Regions from separate parts of the Homo sapiens genome. Here all the other regions are linked to region 2. The links come from fine-mapping of genetic effects on gene expression. A gene starts in region 2. Each other region holds a variant in brackets. All regions are shown on one strand. Distances are from middle to middle.

Region 1 (2,689 bases), 59 kb before region 2:
AAAGAAAAGAGCATCTCATGTACAAATTAGTTAATAATTAAAAAAAAATTTTAACCTAAAGTTAAAATATGTTTTCTTAGCAGTTTGGAGATTTCTCAAAGAACCACAAAGAATTACCATGAATTACTATGTGACCTAGTGATCACACTAGTAGGTATATTCCCAAAGGCAAATAAATCATTTTACCAAAAAGACACCTGCACTCAAATGTTTATGACAGTACTATTCACAATAGCAAAGACATAGGGTAAACTCAGGTGTCCATTAATAGTGAGTTGGATTAAGAAACTGTGGTACATATACACCATAGAATACTACACAGCCATAAAAAAGAGCAAAATAATGTCCTTTGCAGCAACACAGACGCCGCTGGAGGCCATTATCCTAAGGAAATTAACAAATTAAGCCAACCAAATATGCTCACTTATAAGTGGGAGCCAAACATTGGCTATACACGGACATAAAGATGGGAACAATAGACACCAGTGACTCCAAAAGGAGAGAGGAGGGAGGGGGACAAAAGGCAAAAAATTACCTATTGGATACTATGTTCACTGCCCGGGTGACAGGTTCAAGTGAAGCTCACAGCATCATGCAATATATCCATGTGACACACCTGCACATGTACCCCCTGAATCTAAAATAAAAATAAATAAATAAATAAAAATGTTTTCTTTTCATTCTTTTTGGTTTGTTTTGATCACATCAAAATGTCTTCATGTCAATAGTACAAGAATCTTCATTGTAGCATTGTTTGAAATAGTAATATGTTGGAAACAACTTCAATATAGAACTCCCTACATAAATTATGAGAAATTTGTACAACAGAATATTAAGGAGCACTTTAAAAGAATGAAACATTTTTATTTCCACTAACATGGAAGGTTCTCCAAGCTATATTGTTAAATGAAGAAAAAAGGGGCAGGGGCAGTATGCTACCATTTGGGTAAAAAAAGAATGCCTACAAATATGTTCATATATGCTTAAACAGTTTGTGGGATACTACACAAGAAACTTAAGAGCAATGCCTCAAAGAAGAGACTCTAGGAGCTTTTTTTTTTTTTTTTTTTTTTGAGACAAAGTTTCACTCTGTCACCTAGGCTGGAGTGCTGTGGCGTGATCTCGGTTCACTGCAACCTCCGCCTCCTGGGCTCAAGCGATTCTACTGCCTCAGCCTCCCAAGCAGCTGGGACTACAGGCGTGTGCCACCATGCCTGGCTAATTTTTGTATTTTTAGTAGAGATGGGATTTCACCATGTTGACCAGGCTGGTCTCGAATTCCTGACCTCAAGTGATCCGGCTGCCTCAGCCTCCCAAAGTGCTGTGATTACAGCCGTGAGCCAC[C/T]GCGCCCGGCCGATATTTGCTTTTTAATATATACCTTTAAAAATATATTGAATTTTCTACCATGCTTATAATACTGATTCAAAAGAGTAATTAATAATTAAAAATTTCTCCATGTAAAAACAGCAGCCTTAAGTGGAGCTATCACAATGTTCCTGACACTAAAAATCATTATTTCCAAACATTACATGCTTGGCACCACCACCTGGAATATCTTGAAATATGGAAGTTATTTATTCATTTATTCAATCATTTATGTATATACCATGTGCTTATTATACATTAGTGAGATAATAAATCAACAGACAAAATCCCTGCTCACATGGAACTTATGTTCTATGCCAGGAGACAGTTAAGGAACATATGATCCATAGGTTATATTGTACATTTAAAGGTGATAAATGTTATTGTATGGAAACAAAAGGGTAATAGAGATTGAGAAAGGCAGGATTGGTGACATTTAGGCAGACACTTGAAAAAGCAGAAGGAGTGAGCCATGTGGATATCTGGCATTGACACAGCACTCTGGGGACAGTGTTCCAGGCAGAAGGAAGAGCCAATGTAAATGTCATGCACCTGGCATGATCAATCAACAGCAAGGAGGCTAGGGTAGCTTTAGCGGAGTGAACAAGGGATAAAGTAGCTAGAGATGCAGTGAGAGAAGCAACGAGGGTTATTATATCATGAAGGGCCATGTAGGCTGTATGTAATAAGGTGTGTGGCATTTTCTGAGTTAAATGGAAGGCCAGTGGAGGCTTTTGAGCTATGGAATGGTGTAATGAGATTTACTTTCTTATAGGACCACTGATTGCTCTTTTGAGATTAGATTGGAGGAGAGCAAGTGAGGAAGCATCAAGGATAGTTGGGAGACTATTACAGCAACCCAGGCAAGCCAGAGATTATGATAAACTACACTAGACTGGTAGTATAGAAATGCTGAGAGGGGATCAGAGCCACAGACACATTTTGAAAGCAGAACAAACAGGATTTCCTAATAGATTGTATATGGTCTGTGAAAGAAAAGGAGGAATCAAGAATGACTTGCAGCCTTTTGGATTGAGTAGCTGGAAGGATGAGGCTATTACTACAGTGAAGAGCACTACAGGCAGAGAATTTATGAGGTAGAGAGTCAGGAGTTCAGTTCTGGATCTGTCAAGTTTGGGAAGCTACTTAGACAACCAAGTAGAGATGTTAAGTAGCTATAGTTGTATATACAGGGCTTAAGTTCAGGTGAGAAGTTCTGATTGGAGATATTGAGAGTTGTCAGTATAGATGGTATTTAATTCTATACTGCTGAGTTGATGAGTCCCCTAGGGAGTGAATGTAGATAAAGAGAAAAGACCCAAGA
Region 2 (2,689 bases):
GGATATGAGGACATGAGACTGAAACCCCGAGTTCCTAAGTTGGTTTTACCTGACAAGAGGAACTGACAGTGATGCTGGCGGGAAAACCCTATGAGCGAAGTTTCCTCCATCCTGGCTCCCCTCCCCCTTCTTCCCACCTTCACGAAAATTAATAATCCACAAAAGAACTATGTATCAGCCAAGAGCGCAAAAGTTCATCATTCCACCTGAATGCAGCAAGGCCCACGCGCACCTGCGGGCAGAGAGGAGGCTGCCGGGTCCCCGAGTGGGCAGCAGCTTGGGCCCCAGCGAGCAAGGCGGCCTAGCGCCGCAGGATGGCAAGCGAATAGGCCCGGCGCCCGGTCTCCCGGCCTAGAGCAACTCCCTTCTCCACAATGGTGGGTGGTTTAGCCCCTTCGCGCTACCTGAGACGCAAGAATCGCCTCCTGGTGGGGCAGGGAAGGATGTGGGGGCGCTGAGACAAGCAAACGGGGCCTAGAGACCGCGGCGGGCAACTGCCTAGGAGAAAGAATGGGGGGAGGGGGTTGCAAGAGGGGAGAGGAAAGGGGCTCCGCAGGGATCGGGAGGCCAGCGGACCGGTGGGCTGGAGACTTCGGGGCAGAGAAGCTACCGGCTACGGCCGAAGGGGTGGGGCAAGGCCTGCGTGACGGCCAGGGCCGCGGCTGCGAGAACCCCGAGGTGGGGTGAGGGTCGGATCTCGGCCTCACCTAAAGTCCTTGTCGCTGGATGTCATTTTTTCCAGCAAATTGGAAATGTGGTACGAGGCGCTCGCCATGTTGACGGCCTCGATCCCGCCTGCTGGCGCTGCTGGAGCTGCTGCCCGCTGCCGCTGCCGCCGCCGCCGCCGCCACTGGAGCTCCTCCTCTCGCTCGCGGCGGCTCCCGCTTCCAGGGTCGCAGCGCGACGCCGACGCTGACTAGGGAGGCGCCTCGACGGGCTGCCCCCTCCCTGGCGAGGCGTGGGCCTGTCCCGGGGTAAGCCGAGGCTACAGAGCCAGCCTAACGACGGCGCTGTTCGCGTGAGAACGAGCTCATGGGCGGCGGGGCGTACAGAAGGGCCTCTACGGGGAGCCAGACACTTCCACTCAGGGCCGTCTCGCTCCCACTCGCTCCGCACTCGCTCCCTAGGGCAAAAGGCCAAAGCCCGCCTCCTTCGCTCCGGGGGCGGGGGCGGCAGACGCGGGCGCTACGGAAAGCTAAGGTCAGAGTTCACGGAGGCCTCCCCACGCACGCTGTGGAGAAGAGAGTTAAAAAACAATTCGGTTGGCTGAAGCCTGTGTCAGTTTTCATGTGACCCGCCTTTTGGAGGCATGACAACACAAAAAAAAGGGGCTGTTCTCGCGAGACTCTAAAGCGACGGTTAAGGGACAGGGGACGAGTGGAGCAAGTGGGCCTTAATCTGAAAATAACTTGATTGTTTAATGACATTAAGAGAAAAAGATTACGAGCTTTGAGAAGGAGGAAGCCTGGGAGTAACGACAGTTAAGGAGTTAGCTTGCGGAACCAACATAAGAATTTATAACAGGGAGGTGTCGTTTGGGATCAGACGCGTGGCCTGCATTGCCGTAGCCACCGTGGTGTAATGTTGCCACGTAAAAACCACAAATCCCAGAATTCAGTCGGGTGATACACTGGCTCAGAATGTGATTGGCTGCGGGAACTAGTAGCTTCCTCATTGGCTCCCGTGGAAGGAGTGAATGCTGGGATTTGCAGTCTGATGGGGGAGCCGTGCTGGGTAAAAACCTTAGAATCGTCGCGCACTCCGTTTCTGCCGCGGATTCTTATATTCTCCAATACAGGCTTTTTCTGTTATGCAGTATTTGCAGAGCAGGCTGCTGCAGTTTGGCCAGGCGCATTGCGGATCAGTTGGTGTTCTTGCCAGAGGCCTAGCAGCAGCTTCCTAGCGCTACTACTTGCACCTCCCAAGGCAGCTGAGCCTCCCCACTTCTCTGGCCAGACACACTCCTACCGTGCATCGTAGAACCACCTCTCTGACGCCAGCAGGACCTTAGTAAGAGTAATGGGTATGCGACAGATGGCTGTAGTCAGGCCCTACTGATTTCAAAATAGCTAAAAGACTATCTCTGTAGTTAGCTTTTGTGGCCTTGATGGACCTGCAGCTGTGTATTGCTCCCTCAGACGTACAAATTCGTGGAGATGAGTTATGAAAGTATTTAGTATCCAAGTTTTTCATCTGCTTAATATTTGGGATTTTAAACACAAGTTTTGCCAGCTAGGGGTCAACATCCCTGAAAGTGTTAGGGATGGAGCTAGCTGACAGGCCTTTCTAAAAGAACAGAGAGCCTGGTGAAGAGATGAAAAATCAATCTCACTTGATACTCCTGTTAAAAACAACAACAAACCTTTAAATAGCTCTCTACTAACACATAACTCAAATCCGATCAAATCTACCTGACCTTTACCATTGTTTTCTGTATTCATCAACTATTACTGAGTACTTCAAAGTCAGGCAATAGGAGTTAATAAAACAGATGAAACTTGGTTTAGCCTCATAATATGTGTTTAAATTTCACACATACCTCTGATCTGCTCTCATGTATCCTTCTACTTGAATGTATGTAATATAAAGGCCGGGTGCGGTGGCTCATGCCTGTAACCCCACCACTTTGGGAGGCCGAGGCGGGCAGATCAGGGCATCAGGAGTTCGAGACCAGCCTGGCCAATATGGT
Region 3 (2,689 bases), 24 kb after region 2:
ATCTACTGTGAATTTGGAAAAGTCAAATAATAACAAAAATTTAAAATATAATATAGATTGTAAAGTGAACATTTTCTCTCAGGTGATGAATTTATTTTCAGCCCAGCATGGTGGCTCATGCCTGTAATCCCAGCACTTTGGGAGGCCGAGGTGGGCGGATCGCATGAGGCCAGGAGTTCAGGACCAGATTGGCCAGCATGGTGAAACCTCGTCTCTACTAAAAAATACAAAAATTATCCTGGCATGGTGCTGCACACCTGTAGTCTCAGCTACTTAGGAGGCCGAGGCAGGAGAATCACTGGAACCTGGGAGGCGGAGGTTGCAGTGAGCTGAGATCAAACCACTGCACTCCAGACTGGGCAACACAGTGAAACTGTAAAAAAATTATTTTCTTTTCAGTGGAATTTTCCAACTTAAATAGTATTATATTATCTTGCTTTCTAATATTTTACTTCAGAATAACACATTATTATAGTCCACTGGTTTGCTTCCCATATTCCTTTCCTTAAAAAAACACAAAGCTATGTTTAAAGAACATATGAATTTTAAGGGCCAATAAAATGACCTATTAAATTTATATTAATATACATAATTTCAATATGTATGTTCAAAGTAACTGTTTTTGCTTGATGATATGTGATGTAGAAAGAAACCCACAAAGTAACTGTTTTGCATTTATCATTTCAAATTAACTAACATTTGTGATTACCCATTTTGTACACAGTGCTGTGCTAGATGTCATGATACTATTGATACTATCCCAACCCTTTGCAGATCGCTGTCTAGTTGTTATAACTTACAAAATGCAATATGGAAGAGGGCTATTGACTTTGATGTCAGACAGAGTGGAGCTCTTCTTAGCTACCATTTACAAACTATGATCTTGGACAAAGTAGCTGTTATTATTATCAGACTGATGGTGGAAAGTGCCGCAACGTGCAATATGTAAACTGCAGATAAATGACTAGGTCTGACTGTGGTGAGGATAGACTTAAAATACTTGATAAGTAAATGGAATTAGAGAGGGACTTTTAAGGATGGGTAGGAGAGCAGAAAGAGGAGCCCTGGTGGGGCCAGAAAAAAAAAAAAAGGAAATTTCTTGATTTTAAAATAAAACACCCCCAATTTTTTTTT[TC/C]GAGACAGAGTCTCACTCTGCTGCCCAAGCTGGAGTGCAGTGGCACAAACACTGCTCACTGCAGCCTGGACTTCCCAGGCTCAAGTGATCCCCCCACCGCAGCCTCCTGAGTAGCTGGGTCCATAGACATGTGCCACCATGCCCAGCTACTTTTTTTTTTTTTTGTAGAGTTGAGCAGCATCTCTTGCCCATGTTGCCCAGGCTGGTAAACCCCTAATTTAAAAGTATCTGTGCCTGATTATTTGACTTAAACATTTAATTAATATAAATGTCATTTTTATTGATACATGTAAATGTGCCTTTTTTGCTTATATTTTATAAAATACTCAAGTGAATATGTTGTGACAATGTTACACAATCTAATATATGCCAAAATACATACTTTTAAACTCAGTTGTTCTACGGAGCTAACCAAAAATGATTTTTAAAGTAAATAATCAAGGAATTTTTACACATAATACCCACTTTATGCAATAAAAGTTTAAACTTTATACTAAACTTGTATTAAATTCTTGCAAATACTTAAGTCTGTTTTGTTGACTCCTCTCAAACTGGGTTTAATTCTGTTTTAAGCATAATACTTCACAATGCAACCAATAGTTTAGATACCAGGGAAATTCTTGTTCACCATTGGACACAATCTCTCTAGAAACATTATTCCTGAATAAACATAGTGATTTTTTCAAATGTTCCTTTATCATGTTTCTAGAAGTTAAATGCATTAAGATTGTTGCCAGTCAGGGGACTCATGTTTTTAAAAGTAAGGCCAGGCCTACTTGTACCAGTTGAGTCTAGACCAGTGGTGCACTCTGTGTGTGTGTGTGTGTGTGTGTGAGAGAGAGAGAGAGAAGGGGACATGGAAGGTGTACTCCAGGGGTTGCTCAAGACTATCCACTGAGGTTTAGCAAGAAAATGTATGAATTTTTGTTTATATTTATTTTTTAATTCTATTTTGTATGTGTACATACTTTGTTAGAATGATAATATATGTCTACAATTTACAAATAAATTAAACATCATATCTTGGGGAAGGCACTCAATTATTTTTAACTGTTAAGGGTATGCAAGCAATTAAAATATTTGAAAACATTGGTCTGAAAGCAAAATCAAGAAGTATCCTTTTTCTTCTGGCCCTGCCAGAGCTCCTTTTTCTGCAGTCCTACCCATCTTTAAAGGTCCCTCTCTAATTCCATTTCTTTATGAAGTATTTTGAAGTCTATCCTCATCACAGTTAAACATTTTCAAAATATATTTGAAAACATCAGTCCCACTTTTTCACACATCCCAGAGTGCCAGTATCAGTTCCAAGAGAACCCGAATTTTCTCATTCTGGGTCTGTGAGTATCACCTAGTACCCTTGTCAAAAGGCTACTACAACCCTGCAATATTGCATAAGGAGAATCAGTTCCCTTTGATTTTTGCACTCTGGGCACTATGTCGGGGTTAGTTATAAAGCAGGAATAATCCAAATCCACAATGTCATTTACTGTATCTTCCATCAGAGAATAGATGCAATTATATGTCAGATTTGGATTTTATACTTGCTTCACAATT
Region 4 (2,689 bases), 140 kb before region 2:
GATCTGTAACACCTGCTGAAGAATGACACCCATTTACGAGATAAAGAAAACACTGTTCTTTGCTGCTCCCCTGGTTACCCTCAAAAGCCAGAAAGAAGGGAGGATGAAGAGAAAGTCAGCCTCTGCAGACATAGCTGTCATTTGTAACTGCTGCTGTTTCCCAGTCAGCTTAAATGGAAAATGGACTGCTCTTACACCAACGTCACTTAAGTCCATCACGGCAGTACTCCAGGTCCTCCTTTCCCATGTATTGCCTGAGTGGGGCACATTGCCCCCTGACAGACACAGGATGCTGCCCCCAGGCCAACACTTAGAGCTAGAACAGCGACGCTCATCACAGAGCTAGAATTGCAAGCTCAGTCAGGTACAGGGAGTGTTGTGCCTGATTGCAAAAAACTGACTCAGCCTTTCAGTAAAAGTGCCTTAGGGAATGGAACTAGATTGTCCTGTGACAAACCAATGAACACATCTGCTTGTCTCAAAATATGTGAAGCAGAACCAAGCTTCCAGTGCTGAACACAGGACTGCTCTAGTCACCAGGCAGCATCCTTTCCCAAAGAAGGTTTCATAGAACACTAGCCTAGTAGATGATCTTGGCAAAAAGGAACCCATAACTAAGTAAGTTCTGGAAACGCTGTATTTTGTTTCTCCCCTCTTGGAAACTGAAGATGCACATTAACATATTAAGTGCTCTGAAAAGTCACGCACTGAAGAAAAAACCAGTATGACTCTTGTTTAGCTCAGTATTTCCTGAATATGTTCTTTGATGAGACTCCTTTTTCATTGAGTGCCTATTAATATTTTCTAGAATAAGGTTTTAAAGAAAAAAACTGAGGAAACGTTATAGAGGAGAATTTATATTCAAAGGGGAAGTCATTTAGTTCCATAAATGGAACGTTAATTGGAGAAAGATTGGCAGTTGTGAAGCACATCTAAAAGTATTGGCAGAGCCTCTGAAGGACTTGGGAAATGGACTTCCATTCCCTGCCAGGAAACTTCCTTAGGAATAAAGGGACTCCTTTGGTCCTGATCAGAAAGGGAGCAGTATTCCTTGTCTGCATTAGAGTGGAATATTGGGATGATTAGCTACCAGAAGAGTCCTCTTTGATCTTTCCCACTCCTTCAACCCCGTATCCATTCCACCGGAAATCCTACCCTACGTCCTCAATCTCAATCTCCCACTTCCAGTGCTGCAACCTCAGCTCACTGCAGCCTTGACTTTCTGGGCTCAAGCGATCCTCCCACCCCAGCCTCCCAACCATCTGGGACCACAGGGAGGTGCAATCACGCCTGGCTAATTTTTGTATTTGTAGTAGACACAGGGTTTCTCCATGTTGCCCAGGCTGGTCTCTAACTCCTGGGCTCAAGCAACCCACCTGCCTTC[G/A]CCTCCCAAAGTGCTGGGATTATAGGCATGAGCCACTGTACCCAGCCTCAATCTCCCACTTCTTACACATCCACTGCTGCAATAGTCTACTCACTGGTTTCCCTACTTTCACTTTTATTCTCCTGCTATGGTCTGAATATTTGTGTCCCACAAAAATTCATATGTTGAAATTCTAACCCTTAAGGTGATAGTATTAGGATAGTATTGGGGCCTTTGGGAGGTGATGAGGTAGTGAGAGTGGCACCCTCATGATTGGGATTAGTGCCCTTATAAAAGAGGCCCCAAAGAGAGCCCTGAGGTTGCAGCGAGAAGGCCACATCTATGAACCATAAAGCCAGCCCTCACCAGACACCGAATTTGCCAGTGCCTTGATCTTGGACTTCACAGCCTCCAGAACTGTAAGAAATAAATGTTGTCTATAAGCCAGCCAGTCTGTGGTATTTTGTTATAACTGCCTAAACAGACTGACACAACATCTAGTGTATTGTCCATACTGCAGCAAGGTGATCTTAGCACTTAGAATCTGATAAAAATCACACTGCTTAAAAACTTCCAAAACCTGTCCCTTGCCATGGAGAAAACACAAAGATAACATAGGCCTGGCCTGGCATTTCCCTTCAAACTCATCTTCACTAATCTTCCACTCATCTGCATGTTCCAGCCACACTCCTCTTCTCCTGGATTCTCTTTACCTGGAATTCTCCTTCCCATCTCGATTTTGCCTATTTGCCCTTCAATATAGATCACGGTGATCTATGATGGTCATAGTGATCACAGATTCATCACAGAACACTATGCAAAAATCATTTCCTCCAGGAAGACTTTCTTGATTCAACAGTCTAGGTTGGAGCAGCTCAAAGTGCAATCCATACTTCGGTGCCAATCTACAAATTGTTTCCAATGTGATAAATATTAAAATTAAGAAATAAGCATTTAGAAAGTTCTACAGTGTTTTAAAATTACCATGACATCCAAGCACATGGTCAGTAGACTCCCCTTGTTGAACAGGGCAAAGAGCAATTCAGGTGTTGTCAAAATCACGTGGTCAGTCACATGTAGCACAATTTGTATGCTAGTATCAGTCCAGGGCAGATTGAAGGGAAAAGTGGTCTTTCAGCACACATAGTTAGAGATGCACTGGTCTAGGTCACTTTGTCATGTTATATAGTCACAGCACCATGTACCTTCTTTCCAAAGCATCTATCACAGTTGGTAATTTTATGTATTTTTTGCGAACTTTTTTCTTATTGTCTTTCTCCTACACAAGACTCCTAGCTTCCTGACAGCAAGAACCAACCAGGCTTG

The links. PIP is the estimated chance that this variant, and not a neighbour inherited with it, causes the effect. A credible set is the group of variants that fine-mapping cannot tell apart.
Region 1: its variant is the best candidate, but not a certain one, in a credible set for the expression of CAND1 in stomach (GTEx, PIP 0.87).
Region 3: its variant is the best candidate, but not a certain one, in a credible set for the expression of CAND1 in whole blood (TOPMed, PIP 0.59).
Region 4: its variant is the best candidate, but not a certain one, in a credible set for the expression of CAND1 in aorta (GTEx, PIP 0.54).

What each region holds. Positions count from the first base shown.
Region 1 is chr12:67,326,888-67,329,576 of GRCh38, reverse strand. LOC124902957 (a long non-coding RNA gene) reads right to left here and starts at 1,056. Exons shown (of 2, transcript XR_007063354.1): 1 at 536-1,056. The variant C/T (reference allele first, on the strand shown) is at 1,345.
Region 2 is chr12:67,267,804-67,270,492 of GRCh38, reverse strand. It overlaps CAND1 (cullin associated and neddylation dissociated 1), which reads right to left and starts at 1,135. Exons shown (of 15, transcript NM_018448.5): 1 at 708-1,135. The coding sequence starts at 775. RefSeq lists enhancers at 369-1,020, 1,300-1,559, 1,700-1,999.
Region 3 is chr12:67,244,024-67,246,712 of GRCh38, reverse strand. No RefSeq gene overlaps it. Among named protein-coding and RNA genes, the nearest start is that of CAND1, 24 kb to the left of the region's middle. The variant TC/C (reference allele first, on the strand shown) is at 1,135.
Region 4 is chr12:67,411,483-67,414,171 of GRCh38, reverse strand. All of the region lies in intron 1 of LOC105369812 (a long non-coding RNA gene), which reads right to left. Among named protein-coding and RNA genes, the nearest start is that of LINC02420, 30 kb to the left of the region's middle. The variant G/A (reference allele first, on the strand shown) is at 1,385.